Regions from separate parts of the Homo sapiens genome. Here region 2 is linked to region 1. Evidence: fine-mapped expression QTL. Tissue or cell type: whole blood. Region 1 holds a variant in brackets; the other region holds the start of a gene. All regions are shown on one strand. Distances are between the middles of the regions.

Region 1 (11,523 bases):
CCTCCACAGAGACCCAGGGCTCCCTCCGCCTGTGCCCCACAGAGGCAGCTGGGACGGAAGGGGCCCCAGCCTGCACCCTGGGCCAGCAGCCGCCCCTGCGAGCCGAGCTGGGCTGGAAACGCTCTGCTGGGCCTCAGCTGTCAGCTCCTGTCCCCGGCCTGGGGAACGAGCTGCTGGCGGGACACATGATTCATCACGGTCGCCTGCGCCCACCACCCGCCCCGCCCAGCGCAGCACCTGCGGGCTGCCAGGAAACACATGTGACCCCTCCGGGTCAGGCCCCGCACGGAGAGCCCCGGCCGGCCGGCCGGGGGCACACACAGACCCAGCATCAGGGCTCTCCTGGGGGCCGCCCAGCCCCAAGGACAGGCCCCCAGCCCAGACTGCACCGGACACAGGCCGCAACCGGCTGATGTGTCGGCTGGGATTTTTCCGCTCTCGATGAGCCCCCTTCCCTCCCCCTCCCCAAAGTGGCTGCAGCTGTCAGGACCACAGATTGGAACTGCAGGTATGGGGCTGGCCCGCTGCCCGCCTCCTCCCGTGTCTGTCTGCGAGAGAGGAAGCCGGCCCACCTCTGGAATCCTTCACTCTCTCCTCGTTCCGCCTCTCCCACCTGTCCCCCGGGAGCGTGGGGTCAGCCGCCCTCGCTCCGTCTCTCTCTTCCCCAGCCCCTCTCCGATTACAATGCGGGTAGTGTTCAGCGTTCGCGCCGCTCCCCTGCACAAAACGCCCGCCTGTCTCGGAGCGCCACACGGCCTTCCTGTGCGACGTGAGGCCGCCTCCTCTTCCTCAGGGTTTTATCTGTTGAAGTGCTCAGGGCAAGGCCAGGGCGGGAGGCTCACCTGCTGCATCTCACCCTACTGAAGGTTCCAGCAGGGGTGCTGGGCCCTGGCGCCGGGGCCAGAGGGGAGAAAGCCAGGTCCTGCTTAGTCTCCTCCTCCTCAAAGTCCAAACCAGCTGAGCGAACCCCCAGCCCAAGGTGGGGCCCCAGGCAGGAGGAGCCACCAGCCCAGACGCCCTCAGCTCCGGCCCGGCTCCCGCCAACCACGCATCTGCCCTTCTAGAGGCTGGGCACACAGCTCGGCCTTCTCCCGGCACCTCCACCACTGGAGAGAAGCCACTACTGACCCAGGGGTCCTTGCACCTCCACAGCTGGGAGGGCAGCAAGTCACCTCCTGGGGGTCTGCAGGCTGGAGAGAAGCCACTACCGACCCAGGGGTTCCTCCAGACCTGGCCTGCCTCGGTCTCTGCTGGGGCTGACCCAGGGACAATAGCTGTTCCCAGGCAGAGCACCCCAACGCCTGGCATCTCATAAGCAGGGGCTCCCAGAAACCAGGATGCTAGGGGTGGGGCACAGGCTTGGGGCATGACACCCCAAACACCCCCCACCGACACCCACCAGTGCTCACCCCTCCTCGGCCTGCTCTGAGCCCCACAACTCAGAGCTACAACTTCCAGGTGGGGTGGGGACAGGGCTCTAGAGGTCCACACCCGCTCAGCCCCCAACTCCGGACACCTCCAAAATCTCATTCTGGAGACTTTTCCCCCAGTCCTGATCCGTGCACACACACGTACCTGGGACTCCCGTCCCCTGCAGAACAGCCCCGGCCTTGGGACGTACACCCAGACCCAGCTCTCCCCAGCCGGCCTCCCCAGAGGGCCCAGAGCCTGCAGCCGTCACCACCTGCCCAACAGACCTTGCCCTCCAATGCCTTCCCCGGCTCCACTCCACAGGCTGCTCTGCCAGCCCCAGGGCAAAGCCTCCGCTCAAGAGCCCTGTAGAGCACCCCCCGCTGCCCACCCGGGTTCCAGCTGCCAAGGACACTGGCCCCGAGTGGGCACAGCAGGCCAGGGCCCCCACCACCCTTGCAGCCCACAAGCAGGAGGACGCGGCTCTGAAGAGGCCACTCCCACCTACCAGCCACTGCCCAGCCCTGCTTCATCCGAGAGCCCAGGGTACCCCCATGAGGGCCCTGGCTTCCCTGCCCCTCATCACTGACCCCAGGGTCTCTCCTCTCCCAAACCGGACAACTGAGTGCAGCAGGCCAGGCCTAGGAGGGCCTTCAAGCCGGCCAAGGGGCACGCGGCAGTCAGGCTACACACACCCACCCACAGCCTGGGTAGCAGGGCGCGCCCGTTTCCCTCCTCAGTGGAAAGGGACCAGACCCGAGGGCCAGCCCCAGCCCAGTCAGCAGCCCCCTCGGAGGCAGGCATGCAGGCGGCCGCGGGGGTGGATGGCCGCCAGGGAGATTGGGGCGGTCTGCAGGCCCGGGCGCCCTCCACAAGCAGCGTGGGGAGGGCCGTTCGCTCGCCGGGAAACCTGAGCCGAGGCCGCGCCGCCAGCAGCGACGCAAGCCTGAGTGCGCGGGGCCAGGACGCGGGGGCGGGGGCGGCCCGGAGGAGCGGAGGCCGCCAGCACTGGAGGCAGCTGCCGGTTCAGTAGCTGGGAGAAGCCATTAACGGCGCTTGGCGCGAGAGCAGAGGGGACCACGGGCTCTGGACGCAGACAGGCCCGGCTGCATCCCTGCGGGAACCTGACTCACAGCCCAGGCAGGGTCAGGGGCACCGAGGAGCTGCCAGGCTGCACCCCAGCCCCAGACTCCAGACTCCAGTGGAGGCCTCGTGGGGGACGGCCCCAGGCCAGCACCACGGGGCACAGGAAAGGGACAGCAGAGGGCGGCTCCTCCGGCCAGAGTGGACGGCCACCCAGATCCCTCAGCCTGCTACGCTTTCCTGACAAACACGGCCACAGGCAGGGGGAGGGTGGGTGGCTGCATCCTCTGCCTGAGCAGCCACCCGGCCTCAGTTTCTCCCAACCGCTCAAATCAAAGCGGAGGGGCTGCTTCGGCAAAGGCCGAGAGCCCCCTTGCCCCGCCCCTCCACCCCGGCCCACCTCCCCGGGGGTCCCAGCGGCTGGATGAGATCACGTCTGTGAAGCTCCAGGCGCGGTGGGAGAGGGGTGAGGTGGCCATGCGGGGGCGGGGCAGCCGCAGCTCAGCCGGCTCCTGGGGGCCCCCCACTGCCGGCGGCAGGACCCCAGCCAGGCCCAGCGCCTCCTCCAGGGGCTCCGCCCGCCTCCCTCCGCCTGCTCGCTGCTGCCTGCGCACCTGGGGGAGGGGAATAAGACACCAAGAGCTGGAGTACAGCTCTCCTGTGAGGGGCTGCTCAGGTCTTCAAAAGTCAGCGTCCAGCAGGGGGTCCCTGAAGCCCCAGTGTCATCCAGGTCCAGGCCCTGGATCCAGACCCAGGAAGGGCAGGGAAGTGGCCTGAGGAGAAGGGGAGGTAGGTGGGCAGGGGGTGGCAGGGAGGCACCTCCCACCAGCAGGAGCTTGGCCCGAGACCTTCTCAGCATCACAGCCACTGCCACCCACGCGCTCCAGCTGAGATCGCCGCTCGCAGGAGCACACGCCCCAGCGGCGCCCTCCCTGCCCTGCTACCAGGGGCCCTCTCCACAGCCCTGAAGGGCCCCGGCAGTGAGGTCGGCCCTCTCTCAGCCAGCTCTGCCCAGTGCCGAGGAGGACCATGGTCCTGGTGCCACGGCCACCTCCAAGGACACGGGGCTGCCTGACGGGCCCTGCTCTCCTCACCCCACTGTCTCATGGGAGAGCTGCAGGCTGTCTCCCACCTCCCAAGCCTCTTTCCTGCCCACCTGTGGCCCCAAATCACTCCCCTAGGGCCACCCCACTTTGCTCCAAGGGAACAGAGGCCCAGGCAGATGCGCACTTCTCTGGACGGGAGGCATCTGTCCGGGCCTGGCCTGGCTCCTGAAAGCTGAGCTCTGCCGCCCCCTCGAGCCACTGGCCGGCTGTGCTGGCAGGAGCACCGGGCAGCACCCGGGCTCCCTCGCTGTCACTCAGACCAACATATGGGATAGTCATCACTGGAGGAAGCAGCCCCCACATCCCTGGCCGGCTTCCTCCCAGCACAGCAGGGGGCTGCCCACCCGGCAGGCGGCGGTGGCACTGGACAGGCCTGGCAAAGCACCCCCAGGGGCAGCAGGGTCCCACAGGCCCCGCCGAGGCCCCTCCCCCGGCCTCCGCGCTCCGTTTACAATCATCATCGATTTCTCAAAATACCAAATATAAAAAAGTAGCCGACAGGATGTGGCTGCCGACAGCCAGAGCCCCTGGGAGGGGGAGGGGAGACAGGCAGGGAGTGCGCGGCGTGGCCCCCCCGCTCTGAGTGAGCCCGCTGCTCCGGCCAGGAAACCAATTTATTTTGTTTTGTCTCTGTTCTCTGAACGCGCAGCAGAGACCGGATCGGGCGGGCGGCCAAGGCTCCTGCAGCCACAGCCAAGAGAGCCGAAGGATGGGGGAAGAACCTGGGGGGAGGGGGGCGCGTGTCTCCCCCAGGCCCCCCGGGGACAGTTCCTGACAGGCAGGCAGGAAGAGCTCCTTCAGGAAGGCCCTACACCAAAGCCTTCTCCTTCCCCCACAGCCCCCAGGGCCCAAAGGAGACTCTGCCTCACACCCAGGTGCTCCACTGGGACCACAGTCCTACCCTGGGGCCAGGCCACACTGAGGAGGGTATAGGCAGGCACTGCCTCTGGCTTCAGAGCTTCTCAGAGCTTCCAGCCCCTCCCAAATGAGGGCAGCCCCCCGCAGCCAAATCTGCTCTTGGACACAGCCCAGTGCCAGCCTCTCCACGCCGGCGGAACCCAGCCCGGTGCCAGCCTCTCCACGCTGGCGGAGCCCAGCCCGGTGCCAGCCTCTCCACGCTGGCGGAGCCCAGCCCGGTGCCAGCCTCTCCACGCTGGTGGAGCCCAGCCCAGCAGCACGCATCCCCCTTCGCCTGCAAGCTCCTTATGAGAAACAGCCGACCTCCTGCCCCTCCTGAGATGTGCTCCTGGGACTCAGTCAGAGGTCCAGAGGCAACGGCCCCAGCCCACATCAGCCACCACCAGGGGTGGGGGGCAGGGGGACCCCAGGGGAAGGGAAGGGCCACCACTGCCCAGAACATCAGGACATTAGGAGGTGGCCCTGGCCCTGTTCTGCCCGCCTGGCCCCCAGCCAACCTGTGGCCCACCCCACAGCACACACGACAGGGGCACCACCCATGCCCGTGACCCCCACCCCGACCATGACCCCCACCCAGACCATGCACGCCACGCCCAGGGAGCCCACAGCCACCCTGCAGACGCCACAGGAGCCCCCAGAGCCCGTCCACAGGCCAGACACAGGGGCATGGAGCCACACCCAGGTCCTTCCCCTTCACAAGCCATGATGACACACATACATTGCAGTCTTGTGTCCCAGACCCCGAAATTGCTCTTGCAGATGGGGAAGCAGGACGCCCACGTGGGCCTCGGCTCCAACAGTGCGGCCCACCTGCGGCAGGTCCCAGCACCCCCAGGGCAACCCCAGCCCCAACCCCCAGCACCTGCTAGGCTGTGATGGAAGCCGCCCCACCCTGCCCAGTGGGAAGCAGCCCCAGTCCTACCTCCTCATCAGAGCTGTCCTCCGCATACTCATCCCCAATCCGGGCGCTCGCCATCTCTGTCCTCGGGCAAGGAGTGCTGGCCTGCAGAGAGAGAGAGAAAATGGTCACTTCAGGGGATACAGGGTACCCTTTGACCTTGGGGGGATCCCAGGAAGCCCACCACCCCGAAATCTCTGAGCAGCTCCAGCCTGGCACAGGCCTCAGCACAAGGCCGAGAACACCCAGCTCTAAGGGGGCCTCTGGGGGCTGTGGCTGGCACCCGGCGCCGCAGGTCCTGCCCACGGCCCTGTCCTCTGTGAGGGCTGGACTGCAGCCTCCCGGGGCCTCTGTCCCTGGGCTGACACGGGTGTCAGGCTAGACACGGAAGCCACTGGGGCAGTCAGGAGCAAAGCCGCCAGCTGAGGACCAAGACCCACCGCCAACCACCCGTACCCCCATTCATGTCAAAGCCACAGGACTCCTCCCAGGGGCCCCACATGGCGCTCCTGCCGAGCCCCGCCTGGGACGGGGGCAGCATGGTCGGGGGGAAGAAGGAGACGCAGCCGTCGCAGCAGGGTCACTGGGGCCAATGCTCTTGAAGGGGCGGGGGACACACATTGTCCACCCATCCCGGGGGCCACGTCCCGCCCAGTCCAGCCAGCAGAGGGCCCAGAGAGGGCCCCGAACACTCAGAAGGCCTGCCCAGCGTTCTCCCACCCACCACGTCCACAGCCCAGGCTGACCCCATCCCGCCGGGTCACAGAGTGGGCGCCACTGAGAATTCACATCCCAACCTGGAAAACAGATTCTGCCCTCGACTGCGGAGGTGAGGATGGCTCCAACCGGATCGGGTTTACTGGCGGAACCAAGGCTGATGGGGAAAACAGGCCCACCTCTCACCCGTGGGGGCAGTAAAGTGCTCGGGCGCAGGAACCCCAGAGCGAAGGCGGGCACGCCCCCGCCCCCACCCCGAGCCCCTCTTCTCTCCGGCCCGGGCTCCTCCCCTGCCTGTTTTTTCCTTCAATATAAAGAGAGATGGGAGACTAAGTTTTTTCCCAGGCCAGGAACAAGGAAGGATTCAGTTTCCACGTCTCCCCCTGCTGCTGACAGTGGCCTGGGGCGCTCAGTGACACGGAGCTCTTGCCCCTGCCTGGAGCACATGAGCCCCCACAGCCGCAGCAGATCCGTGACCCCGGCCCCAAGCCCCAGACGCGCACAAGGGCAGTTCCACACCCGGCTGCGGTCGGCTGCCCCCGCCTGGCCTCTGCGGACGGGTACCGGGCTGGGCTCCCGACCCCTCACAGTGGCCGGGGCTGAAGCACCGCACGCTGGAGTCCCAGCCTCGCTGCTCATGGGCCGCAGTCCCAGGGTCCTGGCAGGTGACAAAAGACTTGTCACCCAGCGCTCTGTGCCCCGTGGCCCCTGTGCTGGATGTGGACAGGCCACGGCACAGGCAGGCTCTGGGCAGGGGGCAGAGGTGGCCTTCGAAGGTGCTGGGTTCCCAGGGGCGCAGCATCCCCGTGGGACAGCTGTGGGGCACAGAGTCCACCAGGGGGCGACGGCGCTCAGCCAGGCCCAGCGCCCGAAGGGCAGGGGCGGTGCGGGCAGGGGCGGTGCGGGCAGGGGCGGCCACTGCTGGGAACTGCCTGACCTAGAAGGCCCCTTCAGATTTTGGAGGCAGATGCTGTGGGGCATTGAACGTATTTTTTTTAACTTAAAAATTAGAGGAAAAGGCCACCAAAACCCTAACGACACAGACAACGGAACATGAGCCCACGCCACGCTCCGGACTCCTGGGGACAGGACCCCCTCCCGCCAC[G/A]CCCATGCCTGGAGTCAGCCCGGATTCTCCAGGGTCTCCAGCACCACCCGCAGTGTGCGTGGCCTGACTGAGGAGGGGTCGGGCCCGATGGAGCACGAGAGTTGCGTGAGGGTGAAGTAAAAGCTGAGAGAGTGGGCGGGCGAGCGCCACTGGGCAGAGGCAGGCGGGTCTGAAGGACCGACGGGTGGGCAGGGAGCCGCCGAGGGGGAGCGCAAGGACGAGGTGCCAGCAGGATGCGGGGCCGCTGGGGCCAAGGAAAGGCTGCTGTAGTCCCTGAACCCTGCGTGGCCTCTGCCCAGCCCCAGGGCTAGAATGTCACCATGAGGACCAAAGGGAGAAACCCACAGTGGGCTCAGCCAGACAGAAACGGTGTCCAAGCGCATGAGCCCCCTATTGTGACCACACCAGAGCCTCCCCTCCCCAGCATCAGGCCAGCCAGGCCGTGCCCCACTGCCACCAACCAGGCATGAGACACGGGCTCTGCCCTCACCTCCTGGGAGAGGATGGCGACAGAGCTGCGGTGTCCCGGTTCGGTGGGAAGAGAACTCTGCTCCCAGGGCTGCCCACAAGAGGGTTCTGCTGGAGACGTGGACAGCAGGAGGGAAGCAGTCCTAACTTGCCCAGAGACCAGAGCCAGAACATCGCTGTCGGGGTGCCAAGGACACCAAGACAACCCAGCGCTGCACCACAGACCCCACACCCAGCACCTCAGCACGGCCAAGGCTCCCTAGGGCCCTGCCCACGCTAGCCGCAGGGTGCCCAGCACAGAGACAGGCTGCTATCCAAGAGCTCTGTGCCGATGGCTCGTGTGACAGCAACGACTCATCAACAGGTACCTAGGAAACCCACATTTTGTTTTAAAGAAAGTACATCAGCAGGAACTGAAAAGCCCAGAGAAAATACAGCCGAAAAACATCCCTTTTTACTCAGGGAAAAGGAAGGTAACTCGGGGCAGGAGCCCAAGAGTGGCAGGGTCGTTCCCAGGCATGGAGGCCAACCCTGCATGAGGCACTGGCCATGTGTGCTGCCACCAGAGGCCCCAAGACCACCACGGGCCATGACCACCAAGGGCCATGACCGTCACGGGCCACGACCGCCATGGGCCATGACCCCCATGGGCCTCAAGACCACCACAGGCCACGACCACCACGGGTCTCAAGACCATCATGGGTCTCAAGGACAGGCCCCAAGACCACTGCGTGCCACGACCGCCACAGGCCCTAAGACCACCATGGGCCCCACGATCACCACAGGCCACAACTGCCACAGGTCCCCTATACCACCATGGGCCCTGACGATCACAGGCCACAACCACCATGGGCCACGACCACCACAGGCCCCAAGACCACCACGGGCCAAGACCACCATGGCCAAGACCACCACCAGCCATGTGCTCAGCCACCTTAGGACCACCACAGACCAGAGACCACTCCACAGCACTGTGACTCGGTGCCCCACTGCAGACAGCTGTGCAGAGAGGGGCCCAAGGACCCCCATCTATCAGGCCTGGTTTAGATGAGACCCTGGCAGTGGAATGAGGTTCTGGGGAGCGCTGGGGGAAGAGACTATTTGGCAAGCGTAAGGGTGACTGTGACCATTTTAAAACACGGCCACAAACCTTTGATTTTCATCGCATCAAGAGACAGAGTCTATGTCCCCCCCGCCGCAAATCTGGGTGGGCTTGTGGCTGCTTTACCCACCCAAGGGAGGCAGCCCACACTGACACCACAGGATTCTGGGCTGAGGTCGTGAAGGCCGTGTGGCTCTGCCTGGCACAGGAGACCACGTCCTTGCAGCCCTGAGCCCTGGGAGAGGGGACAGCTGGACAGGGGTACCCTTCGTGAACATGGCTGTCAGGGGCGGTCTGGACACACAAGAGGCCCGGCTGTGCTCACCTGAGATCCTCACCCAAGTCCCAGAGCACAGGATGTGAGCTGAGTGTCGATCTTCCTCAGGTGGAATGTACCAGAACCCTCTGGGGCTCCCCGGCCCCTCAGCATGACACTGTACTCAGGGTGTACTGACCCTGCTGCTTTCGGCCTGAACTCTGACCCCTCGAATCCAGAATGCTACAAAATATCTGTTTGATGCTGCAAAGTGTCAGGGCAGGTGGCAGAACAGCTGCCTGACTCCCCCATGGGGGCCAAGAAGCTTGGAGCTGGCAGTCTTCAAAAGAACCCAAAGCAAGGCCACAGGCAGAGGCAAGAGCGGAGTTTACCACCAGCCCTGGCCCCTGGTTCCATCCCCAGCTCTGTGGTCCACACCCAGGCAACTTCTCCACCACTGACCAGCTGGTGAGAATCACTGGGCAGCCCCTTTCCAGACTCCACAGAGCTGCAGCTCCAGACCACTCTCCAGCAGACGGCACCAGCACCCAGACCCCAGAACCACAGCGACAGGGGGCCCGAGCCCAGGGTTCCCACGCTGCAGCAACGCGGCCTGCCACCTGCCATTCCCAGAGCCTTCGCTGAGACGCTGGCGGGATCCCCTGCCCAAGAGTGTGCATTATGCTCCGGCACAGGCCAAACTCTCCTTAAATTATCTGGGAAGGCCGGGCCCAGTGGCTCACACCTGTCATCCCAGCACTTTGGGAGACCGAGGCAGGCGGATCAGTTGAGGTTAAGAGTTCGAGACCAGACTGGCCTACATGGAAAACCCTGTCTCTACTAAAAATACAAAAAATTAGCTGGGCTTGGTGGCGCTCACCTGTAATCACAGCGGGAGGCTGAGGCAGGAGAAAGAACTGCTTGAATCTGGGGGGTGGAGACTGCAGTGAGCTGAGATCAGGCTATTGCACTCCAGCCCGGGTGACAGACAGACTCTTGTCTCAGAAAAAAAAAAAAATCTGGAATCATCACTTTAATACCAGGTCTTCGGCCTTCTCTCACTTTCATACCAGGTCTTAGGCCTTCTCTCAGTTTAATACCAGGTCTTTGGCCTTCTCTCACTTTAATACCAGGTCTTCGGCCTTCTCTCACTTTCATACCAGGTCTTCGGCCTTCTCTCACTTTAATACCAGGTCTTAGGCCTTCTCTCACTTTCATACCAGGTCTTCGGCCTTCTCTCACTTTAATACCAGGTCTTCGGCCTTCTCTCAGTTTAATACCAGGTCTTAGGCCTTCTCTCAGTTTAATACCAGGTCTTCGGCCTTCCCTCACTTTCATACCAGGTCTTTGGCCTTCTCTCAGTTTAATACCAGGTCTTCGGCCTTCCCTCAGTTTAATACCAGGTCTTCGGCCTTCCCTCAGTTTAATACCAGGTCTTCGGCCTTCCCTCACTTTCATACCAGGTCTTTGGCCTTCTCTCAGTTTAATACCAGGTCTTCGGCCTTCCCTCAGTTTAATACCAGGTCTTCGGCCTTCCCTCAGTTTAATACCAGGTCTTCGGCCTTCTCTCACTTTCATACCAGGTCTTTGGCCTTCTCTCAGTTTAATACCAGGTCTTCGGCCTTCTCTCACTTTCATACCAGGTCTTTGGCCTTCCCTCAGTTTAATACCAGGTCTTCGGCCTTCCCTCAGTTTAATACCAGGTCTTCGGCCTTCCCTCACTTTCATACCAGGTCTTTGGCCTTCTCTCACTTTAATACCAGGTCTTAGGCCTTCTCTTACTTTAATACTAGGTCTTAGGCCTTCTCTTACTAGTGCTTTTTTCTTTCAAGACAGAGTCCCACTCACTCTGTCACCCAGGATGGAGGCAGTGGCATGATCTCAGCTTACTCTAACTTCCGCCTCCCAGGCTCAAGCAATTCACATGAGGTTTCACCATGTTGGCCGGGCTGGTCTCGAACTCCTCAAGTGATCCGCCCACCTTGGCCTCCCAAAGTGCTGGGATTACAGGTTTGGCTCACCGCATCCAGTCTTTTCTCACATTCTTGACTGTGACAAGCAGATTAACTGATAAAAACAGAAACTTCTGCACAAAATAATAAAAAGAAAAACTCACATAAATGAAAAGACAAAACCAAGCAAAGCTGGGAAAAAAATGAATCTAAATGAGCACAGAAAGGAAAAAACAGCTCTGAGCGCACGGACCCCACAGATCCACTAGACACCAGCGATAAAGAGAAGGCCCTGCAACCAGTCCTCGCTCCGGTGAGCCCGCGGCCCGCGCTGCCGTGTGCTGCTGGAGAGGGGACAGGAAGCGAGGCACAGGCCGGCAGGAGGCAGCTTCCTCCCTGGCTGGTCAGTGGAGGGCTGGGAGCACCCGTGTCAGGGGTGCTGCAGGGCAGGGAGCACACAGCCCAGGGCGCCCCTCCAGTGGGATGGCTCGCAGACACAGTCAACAGC
Region 2 (11,523 bases), 52 kb after region 1:
GCTGGCTTTATCCATGCCCATCTCCAAGATGAAAACAGGAGTCGGGAAAGGGTGGTGCTTCCCAAAGCTCACTGCAGACAATCCTACACAAGCTTTCTCAGGGGCCCCTTGACAGGCTTCCAAGGCCTTCCTCAACCCAGCCACAGCCTCACCTCAGGCCCTTCACAGGCCTGACCAGCCCCACCCAGAGGCAGCACCCCCACTGCGCTACCCCTACCCCTCACAGGCCCCCATGAGGAGGAAGCCCCAGTCCACCAGTGCCCACAGAGCTCCAAGCAGTCAGTGCGGCCAGCAGCATGTGGGCTACAGGGCAGGCTGCATGGAACGGCATGGGGAGGTGGGATCTGCCCCTGTGCCTAGAGCACCTTTATCACCCTCTCACTGACTGGAGGATCTGCCCAAGCCTCTGCACCTTCCAGCTGTCCCTACACCCACTCCCTAGTCCAAGAAGACTCGGAGCAGCCTGCCCTCCCTCCTGCAGCCCCCAGGCCCACCCAGCCAGCAGGATCCTCTCAGTCTCACGGCAACACTGAGACCTTGGCACATGCCCACCCGCCACCCTGTCTCCAGGTTCAAAGTGTGCCCAAAGGCACAGGTCCCAGTGAGTCCCACACTTGGGGCCCACACAGTGCAGCTCCAGGGCCAAGCACAATGAGGAGGGGGCAGAGTCCAGCTCTGCTCACTGCCGCCTCCTCCACTCTGGCCTCTGGGCTGGGCCTGGGTTCAAGATGGTTGGGGCAGGCTCCCTGCACCTCGCAGACCCTGCTGGAGAGAGAAAGGGAGAGTCAGAAAGGACACCTCAGGGACAAAACACCCTGGGAGAAGCCAGAAACCGGATGGCCCCGACTGGGGTGCCTGTGAGCAGAGGGCTGGTGGGTGTGTGCAAAGAGCCTGGCAGGAGTGAGCCACAAGCAGAGCAGAAAGGGGTGCCCTCTCCTGCCTGCCTCACAGCCTCACCTTGCCACGGGGCCGGAAGAAAGGAGCTCACACCCAGAGCCCAGCCCTAGGTGAGCAGGAAGTGTCCGTGAGGGGAGGAGGCCCGAGCTCAAGGAGTAATGAGGAAGCGGGAGAGGAAAGGCTGGGCTGGGCCAAGAGCAGCAGGAAGCTGGAGGGAGGGGAGGCTGTGAGGCTGACAAGGGGGTGCGCTAGAGGCCAAGTCCCAGGAGGGCAGGCAGAGCAAGGCCTGACGCAGACAGCAGGGAGAAGAGCCCAGTGTCCACAGCCAGTGGCCGAGCCCTGCTGCATCCCTAGGTCTGAGGGACAAGCACACATAGCCTGCAAGTCCTGGAGACCCAGGAGCAGATAGACTTTTGGTCTCAGCCTCCAGCCCCATGAAGGCCTCACCTCTCCATCTACTGCCCCTCTTCCCAAGGAGACCCGACCTCCACGGCAGGGACAGGGACTCACCAGGCCTCTCCCACGAGCTCTGCACCCATCCCACACCAGCAGAAGTACAGGAAAGCCTTGCTGGTTTGCAAAGCAAGAAGGTGACTGCTCTCCCCTGCCTACCCCCAGGTGGCGGCTTGGCCCAAAGCTGGGACTACCCTCATCTCACACTAAAAAAAATCTCAATTCCCGGCCGGGCGCGGTGGCTCACACCTGTAATCCCAGCACTTTGGGAGGCCAAGGCAGGTGGATCACCTGAGTTCAGGAGTTCGAGACCAGCCTGACCAACATGGAGAAACCCCATCTCTACTAAAAATACAAAATTAGCCGGGTGTGGTGGGCGCCTCTAATCCCAGCTACTCTGGAGGCTGAGGCAGGAGAATCACTTGAACCTGGGAGGCAGAGGTTGCAGTGAGCCAAGAATGTGCCATTTTACTCCAGCCTGGGCAACAAGAGCAAAACTAGTCTCAAAAAAAAAGAAAAGAAAAAAAAAGAAATCTCAATTCCCACGTCCTCCACAGGTCATGTAGCCATCCCCCTGCCTCCTGGAGAGAGGGTAACTCCAGGAGCCACACCTCCTTTTCAGGTAGGAGGTGCCTAGGCCAGCCTCCCTCACCAGCACCCCAGGCCCACAGCAGGCAAGCACCCCTCTCAGGAGGGCCACCCTCCTCCCCACGGCCCCTTCAAGGCCTCCGTGCCCGACCTTTGTCCATGTTGCTCCATGCCTGACTCTCGCTGAGGTTATCTTATCTCCCAGATGAACTGAGCACCCTGAGGGCCACGACAGTGCCTGCCCTCCCCCAACCCCCTCCCCATGGTGCCCCGTGAAGGAAAGCTCTGTTCTTGCTCACTGAGAGAGCAAATCATTGCCAACTACATGTCCAAAATCAGCCCACTTCTGCCTTGATAACCTCTAGGCCCTCAGCTGCTCTCTAAAACAAAGCCCTGAGGGCCCCTGGGCCAGGGTAAAGGCCATAAAGGGGGGATGGAGGGTGGCAAGGGGATTGCTCAAGGCCAGCTTGGTGGAGGAAGCCAATGCCCAGGCTGGCCAAGTCCTTCCCATCGGCCATGGTTCTCTCCCTCCACCCCTCTCTGTCAGTCATCCAGCTGAGCAGGGCACACGCCTGCAGGTGTGTCCACCACCCCCATACCCCACTCCCCACCTGGAGGATGGAAGTCCCAACACAGAACCCAACTCTCTGTCCCTACAACAGACGCTGGCTCTGGCAACATCGGCAGGGCTCCAGGCCAGCCTAACCACTGGAGCAATGAATGGGCCACGCAGCCACTCTCAGAAGGGTCTGCAAGGACAAGAACGCCTCTAACACTGCCCCTTGTCCGGGGCAGCTGCTGATTCCCCTGTCCTCGGACAGGCCTGGGCTCCTCTGGCCCCCTCCCTGGCAGGCCAGCCCTCCTCTGGGAGCCTTTCCTACCCGCAAGGCACCGCTCATAGCACCAAGAAGGAACCTATCACCACAAACTGCCCAGATCTTATCTGACTCCTTCCATATAAGGGGACACTGTCCAGGGCCGGGCCCCCACCAGCCCGCCCCTCGAAAAGCTCCTCAGGAGCCCCTGAGGATGCACAGACCCAAGAGGATCTGGATGCGGGACACCTGCCGGCTCCCCTCTGCCTGGCCAAGGCCAGCTCCAGAGCCCCTACCCAGTGACCTTGTCAGGTGACTCTCCCCAAGCCTCAGTTTCCCCACAGGGCCCATAGGGCACACCGATCCCCGCTTAGCCCAGGGCCCATGTTCTCGGACTCGGAGCTCGCGCTTCGGCCAACCCCGGAAAGTCGCGGGGCCCTTGGGTCAGAGGTTAGGGGGTCAGGCGCTCCGCTACCTCAGCTCCCAGTGGCCGCTGCCCACGCCGGCGTCTCCGTCCTTGTTGGGGGCCGGGGCTGGCGCGTCCCCCGCGGCTCCCACGTCGGGGCCCGCAGCGGCGTCCCGCACCTCCTCTTCCGCCGCCGCAGGCCCGCCGCCGCCGTGGCTCGAGGGCCGCGACCCTGTCCTCCGGCGCCGGGAGCTGCCGCGGTCGCCCATGGCCTCAGCCCGCACCCGGCCGCAGCCAAGCGTGGGCCCGCCGGGTTCGTAGCGCCCGAGGCGCGCGGCCCCACCTCCGGGCCCTAGACAACGGCCGCCACTGCCCCCTGCCGGCCGCCGTAGCCCGGGTGACCGCCTCACCAGCGCGTTCAACCCGCCCGCGTCGGGCCCGTCGGCCTCAAGGACAACGGCTGCGTTGCTCCGGAGCCGCTAACTAATGGACGGCCGCCTCTCTCGTCCATTTGTAGTCCGCGGCCGACCTGAGGCGGGGCCTGGAGAGGCTGACGGGGCGCAGGGCACCCTGGGAGTCGTAGTCGCCGCGGGCGCGCCGGCGCAGAGCACCCTGGGAGTCGTAGTCGCCGCGGCCGCACCGGCGCAGAGCACCCTGGGAGCCGTGGCAGCTCCCAGGGCCGGGGCTGCGGGCCGCAAGTGCGCGCAGCGGGAACGGACCTTGCATCGCTCCCGCGTGGTCCCGGGGTCCTGTCCGGCCCCACGGAGCGGGATGGTCCGCTGAGGGGTGCGCTGGGCCCCGACTTCCTGGCCGCTGTGCGCCCGCCCCTCGTCCCACTTGTGTACACACGGGGTCTCGGCGAGTCACTCCGGGCAATCATTTAGGAAGCGCCTAGTGCGCCACGGTCCAGCTGTCCGGGCCGGTGTCCGCGGCGGCTCGCGTCGCCCGCCACCCAGCGCGTTGGTTTCTGCGCACGCAGCTTACAGTAACGTCCCTGGCGCGCTTCTGCTCCGCGAGCCCTCTGGTTACCCCGGCAGGAACCTGCTTTTCTTCGCCTTAGGGGGACGTCAGACAAGGGCCAGGTCAGAAGACCAAGCTGGAGAAATGCACCAGGCCCTGCGTCACCGGGACGCCTGCCTTGCACGCGACTCCCAGGCTCTCCACCTCCCCGCCTGCAGAGCCCGGCGAGAGGAGGGCGAGGGCGAGGGCGAGGGCGCAGGCCCCTTGGTGGTGTCTTCTCAGCCCACCCACTCTCTCCACAAGGAGCTCCACGTCCCTCAACTCTCAGGGCCTCCCAGTTTCCAACGTGGGCCAGCCTCTCCAGGATGTCAGAAGTCTGGGCCGCTGGATCGCCGGGACTCAAGAGGCTTCTGTGCATTTGCACGGCCTGTGCAACCGCCCTGTTGTTTTTTGTTTTCTTTTTTCTTTTTTTGAGACAGTCTCACTCTGTCGCCAGGCTGGAGTGCAGTAGCGCGATCTCGTCTCACTGCAACCTCCACCTCCTGGGTTCAAGCGATTCTCCTGCCTCAGCCTCCCGAGTAGCCAGGACTACAGGCGCGTGCCACCACGCCCAGCTAATTTTTCTGTTTTTAGTAGAGACGGGCTTTCACCATATTGGCCAGGCTGGTCTCGATCTCCTGACCTCGTGATCCGCCCACCTCGGCCTCCCAAAGTGCTGGGATTATAGGCGCAAGCCACCGCGCCTGGCCTGTTGTTATTTTTTCTAAAGATGGGGGTCTCGCTATTCTGCCCAGGCTGGTCTCGAACTCCTGGCCTCACGCAATCCTCCCACCTCGGCCTCTGAAGGTGCTGGGATTACAGGTATGAGCCACTGCCCCAGACATCTTGTATGTTAAATGAAGCAACTAATCAACTGTAACAGCCACAGTTGCGGCCCACCTTGGCTTGGTGTGCATATTGCACAGGGCATGGAGTGAGAACATCCTGGATCTCAGGATGCCAGGGTTCACTGAGGACTCTGACTCTAGAAACACCTTCATTCCTCTGGGGTGAGCAGGGGCAAGCAGCACTTCTCTGGAAGCAAACAGGTGCTCCTCCTGAGGTGGGGTCCTCTCCCGTGGGCTGGTCACAGCCTCGCCTCTGAGCTCCGTCCTCTTCCACCACCTCCACCAACAGTGGCCAGCAGGGCTGCCCCCTTGGTTGCCCCCCTGGTGACATATTCTTGTCACCACAGGCCGCTGTGGGTTGCTGCCAACCAGGTATCAGGCAGGCTGGAGCTACCTGGCAGATGCCCTTTGTGTAGCCTGCCGAGTGGGGCCGCCCTCACTGGACCCAAGAGCCCCTCACACATGGGCCTTGGTCGGTCAGGACCAGCCCCATCTCCTACCCAGTCTCTCAGAATATTCATTTGTTGAATGCAGTCGCTGGCAGACACACTCTGTGGCCAGGTAGGCCCAGACCTGTCTGAGTATGGACTGACAGCAAGCTCAGAGAGGTCTGGACCTGGCCACGGAGCACCTCATGCTAGGCAGAGGAGATCAACGACTCAACCTGTGGTCGCGTCCCAACTCAAAGCCGGCAAGTGGCCACAGGAGAAAGACAATGGGAGGGTGGACTGGACCACCAGGGAGGATGGGTCGGGCCTGGTGAGCAGAGCCAGGCTTGGAGCCAATGGGGAAAGCACTGGCTGTGGGCGGGCCATTAAGGAAGGGCTTTGCCACCGGGGGTGGGGGCGTGGCGGGGCAGCAGCTCCAGAGGTGGGTGAAGCCCTGCCCAGACAGGCCCTATACCCTGGGATCTAGGGTGAGGGGAATGGTCAGGGTAGGTGAGGTTGGTTGGGGACAAGGGTGTGTATGGCTGGGTCATCGAGGAAAGCATGATGCAGATCACCCTGCTGGGGGCAGCAACAAATGAGGGGGCCCAAGCCCGAAGCGAGTTGCCTTCCAGGGCTAGTGGAATAAAGGGCTGGAAGTGGGTTGGGGCCTCAGGCTGATCCCAGGGCCTAGGGGCCATGGGTGGGCCAAGAAGGCCTGTGAGAAGCAAGGGTCCCAGGAGAGTTCACAGCCAGTGGTGGTCTATGGCCTGTGCTGCTCATTCAGAGGGAAACTTGTGTCTGTGGCTGGGAGGAACTGGGGGGTCGAGCTCATCCCAGGCCTCAGGGAGGCCACCTCCATCCTTCCACCCACTCTACGCATCAGAATCCTGGAGAAGTAGAAACAGCCAGTCGCTGTTGGAGTCCTTTGGAAGGAGTGAGGCTAGGAGCCTTCCTCCTGGCCATTGCTGTCTGCCATTGTCATTGCTGGTAGTGCTCTCCCAAAGAGAGCACCCACCTGCACCACAGCTCCTCCAAGTGCCAGGCACACAGGCCATGACATGCTGCAGACCTGGTTCCCCTGCTCTCCACCCTAGTGGAGTCTGGGCAGGTCTGTCCCCTGTCCCTGCTAGGGTGTGGGCAGCTTTGCTGGCCCTGGATCTAGGACTGACCTGGTTTGAATGTATGTGCCCGAAGACTTTGGGCCTCTCGGCTCATGCCTGCCTACCTGGTTACCAGGGGACATTGCTGGGCAAAGGGTCCCTGTCCCTTATCTCCTCCACTACTCATTCTGTCTAGAGCCCTTGGGCGATGGTTGCAGAAGCCTCTCTGCCCCCTGGGCACCTCCTCCCTGGAACCGGTCCAACCCAGCTATCCATGGAGGCATCCGCAGACACTGGGGGAGCATATCTGGGAAGCCTGGGGGTCAGAATGTGGGCAGCAGGCCACAGGAAAAGGGCCAGACCTCGAACTCTCCACTGTCCCCATTTCCTGCAACAGCATCTCAGAGGGCTTGAGGTGGCTATCAGGCCTTCCATCACAGCATAAAGCTCCTTCAGGGAGAGAAGAGCGAAGGCACCCAGGCTGGGGAACAGCAGCTCCTACTATACCTACCCTGCCCACTCTGGTCCAACCGTGGGCTTGGCCTGACTTTAGACTGGAACCCCTTAGTGCTCCTGTTCCTGGTGTGGAGCAGATCCACCTACCCCAGGGGAAATGCCAACTACTTTGCCTTCAGACCTGATGCTCCTGTGGTTGGGCCTGCCAAGCCTGCCCTCCCCAGTGGAAGAAGAGGGCCGTCTTGTGAAAGGCCTCAGGCTGACCCTTGCAGCACCAGCCTCTGAGGTACTGCCAGACTGGGAAGACCCTCCCAGCCACCCAACAGCGTGGGCCCAGCCCAGGACACATCAGCCCGACACTCCAAATTCTATCAAGAGTGGCATTTATTCTCCTTGTGGAGGTGCGGTGCTCCGGGGAGCTGGTGCTATTGTGCTTAGGAAGGAGGTCTGTCCGTCCGTCCGTCTGTCCGGCCGGCCTGGCCCCAAATGGGGGCGGAAGAGGGGCACGGCCCGAGTAAAAATCCCGGCCTATTCCGGGTGGGAATATGTACAAGGCGGCGGGGCACAGGCGGGGGTGGGGGCGGGCGGGCCGGCGGCCGCAGCCCCCACCCGAGGGCCCCCGCACCTCGGGCCCTACTTGTAGAATCAGTACAAAATAGGTGCTACCTAAACGTTCCTTCTACCTGAATTCGCTAAGTCGGTTATTGTGCTGCTTAGTTATGGGGGCGGGAGGGGGCCCATGGCTTTCCACGGCGGCGGGGTGTAGGGGGAAGCAGGAGACCCTGACGGGCCCACAGCCCTCCAGCTTTCTCCTTAGGTAGGTAGACAGGAGTATGGGGTGGGGTGAGGTGGGGGCGCCTGTGTGTGCGTGTGCATGCGGCACAGGTGGGCAGGCCCCAGCTTGGGAGCTGTGCAGGCACCACACCTGGTTGTGTAGGGTGTTTGGATGTGGGCACTGCTGTGCAGAGCGGTGGGTCATCCTTGTGGGGGCAGCCACGCTTGCTGCTGGGGGTGAGGCTGGCCACACCATAGGCTACAGCTGGCACCTTCTTCTCCAGCCATGGCTCTGCCCCTGGCTGGACATGGCAGATGTGTGTTGGCCAGAGGATCAGAGAAGTGGCCACCTGTGTGGGGGCCCAGGAGCCCTGGATCTGTCCCCCTCAGCTGGAGTCAAAAGGCCTAACTCAAAGGTAGAGCCCAGTTGTGCCCAGCAGGGACTGGTTGAGGTGGGGAGGAGTGTAGGGGGCATGTGAACCTAGGGACCTGGTCTCTCTGCATCTGCCGTTCTTCCCTGGCCCACCCAAGCCGGTTGGACCCCTGTCCTGCAAACACACCTCCCAGCAGGTGGCTGCGCTCCTGGCGGACTCAGCAATTGGCCTGGCACATAGTAGGTGCTCAATGAACGGTCAGTGAATGATTAATGCCTGAAGGAGGGGTCTTGGGGGCAACCACCCCACCCCCGCCCATGGAACCATTACAGCCGCCGGGCTCTGCCGTGGGGGTCGGGGAGGGGTGGGGAGAAAGTCTGCGCGGCCGGCCCCGCGCAGCGTCCCTGATCTAGGGGCCTATGGGGTGGGTAGGGCGAGGGGATACCTGATTCTCAGTAACTCTAGAGGCGGCGGCAGCTTCGCATGCAGTGCGCATTATTGCTCTATAGTCGGCTTCGGACTACCTAAGAGGGAGGGGGAGCGGGCAGCCCCGGGTAGGATCGGGAGGAGGGGTGGGGCTGCATGCAGTGACGTCACAAAGGCGGCGGCCAATGGGGCGGGCCCTTGGGGCGGGGTCGCCGCCGAGGCTTTGGCATAGACGGGCGAAAGTTGGCAACCGAGTGGGGGCGGGGCCTGGGTCTCAGGGGCGGGGCCTGGGTCTCAGGGGAGGGGCCTGCCTCGGAGAGGCGGGGCCTGAGGCTCCCTAGAGGCTCCCAGCTAGGGGCGGGCCTCGGGGCGTGGAAAGTAATCCCGGACATCCCAGGCCCCCGGCGTCGGCGGGCAAGATGGGGGTTCAGCGCCCCCTCCCTGACCCGAGTGCAATCCGTTCATAAATAAAACGTACAAATACAGAAAAAGAAACCCGACGCGTCCGCAACCCCCCCAGGGGGCTTTACCCGCAAAGCGAAGACAGAGGTGTGTAGAGGGCAGCGCCCAGGCCTGCCTGCCGGCCCCGGGAATCCGTCCTCCAACACGAATGCCTGGGGTACGGGGGTGGGGGGTGGGGGCCCGGGGCAGGGCGGAAGCGGGGTCTGAGGAGGTCGGATAAGTCCATGCGATTCGATATGTGTCATTATTATTCGATATGGAGGACAGAGCCCGGGAAGCTGGGCTGGAAGAATTCGGATTTGGCAGAGGATGCGAGGCGAGGGTAGGAGGGCGGCTCCGACTGAGGCCCCAGAAGCAACCCGAGGGAGGGGGTGCCGCCGTCCGCCCCTCTCCCCGACCCACAACGCGTCTAACACTGCCGGGAGTTCCGCGAAGGCTGCTAGGCAGGGGCGTCCCTGCAGGCCCGCCCGCTCCTGCTCCGCCCCGGCCTGCTGCCGGGGAGGGGCCGGCTCCCTGGACGTCTGGGCCGCAGGCCCTGCGCTAGAAGGCTTGGGAAGGGGTGGGGAAGACCTGAGTCCCTGCGACGCGATCCAGGGGCGCAGAGGCGGGAGAAGGAGGGCGCTCCCTACCTCACCTCACCCCCGTCTTCAGAGACCCAACTCGGAGATGAGGTTCGGTTCTAGGTCTCGTCGACCCTATTGCTGGGAGAAAGCCGGGGGCACCCTGGAGGGGAGGGGAGGGGGCTCGGGGTGGGTCTCCCCTCGGGACCCTATTGCTTGAAGGGGCCGGCAAGGCCCCTGGCGGGCGGGGCGGGGTGGGACCGGGCCCCCCTCCCCCTATTGCTGTGAGGAGGGGCCCGCCCTCCGGCCCCTCCACCCGGACGCCAGCGAAGACTTCCCTGGGGGGCCGTATTGCTGAGAGCCGACCTGGCTGGGGGAGGCCCCGCCGCCCTAGGCCTGCACAGGGCTGAGCTGTGGCGGCGCAGGAGCCGCGGGGCCTCCGGCGCCGCCCTTGAAGCAGGCCGACTCGTAGTGCTTGTTGAGATAGGACTTGAGCGCGAAGCTCTTCTTGCAGCGCTTGCACTGGAAGTGCTTGAAGGCCGAATGCGTCTGCATGTGCGCGCGCAGGTTGGAGCGGTCGGCGAAGGCCTTGCCGCAGTGCGCGCAGCCGAAGGGTTTCTCGCCGGTGTGCGAGCGCATGTGGCCCTGCAGCAGCCAGGGCCGCGAGAAGGCTTTGCCGCACACGCCGCACTTGTGGCGCAGGTCGTGCGTGAGCAGGTGCATGGCCATGGCCGGCATGGACACGTACACCTTGCCGCACGTCGGGCAGCGCCGCGCCAGCTGGCTGTCCAGGCTGCGGTGCGTCTGCTTGTGGCGGCTCAGGTTCGACGACGTGGCGTATGTTTTGCCGCACTCGCCGCACGCGTGCCGGCCGCCAGCACCTGCGGCCCCTGGCCCCGCGCGCGCCTCGGTGCCTGCCCCCGCGCGCGTGCCGCCCCGGCCCCCCGGCCCGGATCCCAAGCTGCGCCCGCCCGCCCCGCCCCCGCCTCCGGCGTCGCCGTCGGGGGCCGCCGCCGAGGCTGTGGAGGGAGCGGCGGCAGCGCCGGCATTGGAAGCCTTACGCCGCGAGCGCCCGTCGGTGATGAAGAAGGCGTCCGCCGCGTAGCCCTCGCTGACGGCCGCGTCGCCGTTGATGTAGCCGCCCGCAGCGGTGGCCAGCTCCGGGCGCGGGGTGGGCGGCGGCGCAGACCCTGCAGCCGCCGGACCCAGCTCTCCACGCACAGCTGCTGCGTACATGGGCTCCGGCGACGGCCCTTTGAGCAGCGCAGCCTCGGCGTCGCCATCGTAGACGGACGAGGGCCCCACGTAGTCGCTGAGGTACCCTGCGGGCGGAGGCGGACGGACAGCGGGAAGGGAATGGGGCGGCGGCAGGACACACACGGGGGATGGGGGGGCGGGAGACAGCAGACGCGGACCGGGAGACCCGGGTCCGGGAGAGAGGCGAACAGGGAGGAGGACAAAGGAGAGGAGGCCGAGGGACCGCCGGGCAGGGAGGATGGAGACAGCAGGGAGGGGAAGAGAGGGGAGGAGAGGATGAGACAGGGCCGGGCCACGCTCCGCCCCCGCCGCCCCACCCTCGCAGAGAGGAGGAGAGAGGCGCGTCTTCGGGCGCGGCTGCCCCCCTTCCGCGGAGCCTCAAGGTCAGGGGGGAGGGGCGGCGCTTCCCTCTCCCTCCTCCCCCACCCACCCTCCCCTCCCCCTCGGGTTCTCCCCACTTCAGCAGTTTTCCCTGATTATGCAACACACTGCAGACCCGCGGCGCACAAAGCCAGGACTGCCGGCCCAGGGACCCCGTCTGTCCCACCTCTCCGGGGTCCTGGCCGGCTCTCCCTCTGGCCTGCAGAACGTGCGCTCCATTTTGATGTTGACCCCCTCTGGCCTTCTGGTTCCTCCAACAAGCCCTGAAGACGTCTCCCTCCCCCAGTTCCCTCCGGCCT

The links.
Region 2: it holds the start of DGAT1, and the variant in region 1 is fine-mapped to the expression of DGAT1 in whole blood (TOPMed, PIP above 0.99).

The regions. Positions count from the first base shown.
Region 1 is chr8:144,270,785-144,282,307 of GRCh38, forward strand. It overlaps BOP1 (BOP1 ribosomal biogenesis factor), which reads right to left. Exons shown (of 16, transcript NM_015201.5): 3 at 5,440-5,520. Among named protein-coding and RNA genes, the nearest start is that of SCX, 10 kb to the left of the region's middle. RefSeq lists silencers at 153-322, 3,961-4,090, 7,024-7,073 and enhancers at 217-860, 861-1,504, 4,083-4,725. The variant G/A (reference allele first, on the strand shown) is at 7,238.
Region 2 is chr8:144,323,209-144,334,731 of GRCh38, forward strand. DGAT1 (diacylglycerol O-acyltransferase 1) reads right to left here and starts at 3,644. Exons shown (of 17, transcript NM_012079.6): 1 at 3,229-3,644. The coding sequence starts at 3,428. It overlaps SCRT1 (scratch family transcriptional repressor 1), which reads right to left. Exons shown (of 2, transcript NM_031309.6): 2 at 7,357-10,908. The coding sequence ends at 9,977. RefSeq lists enhancers at 720-779, 8,660-9,368, 9,105-9,154, 9,369-10,077, 10,078-10,785 and silencers at 3,271-3,340, 3,351-4,070, 8,655-8,944.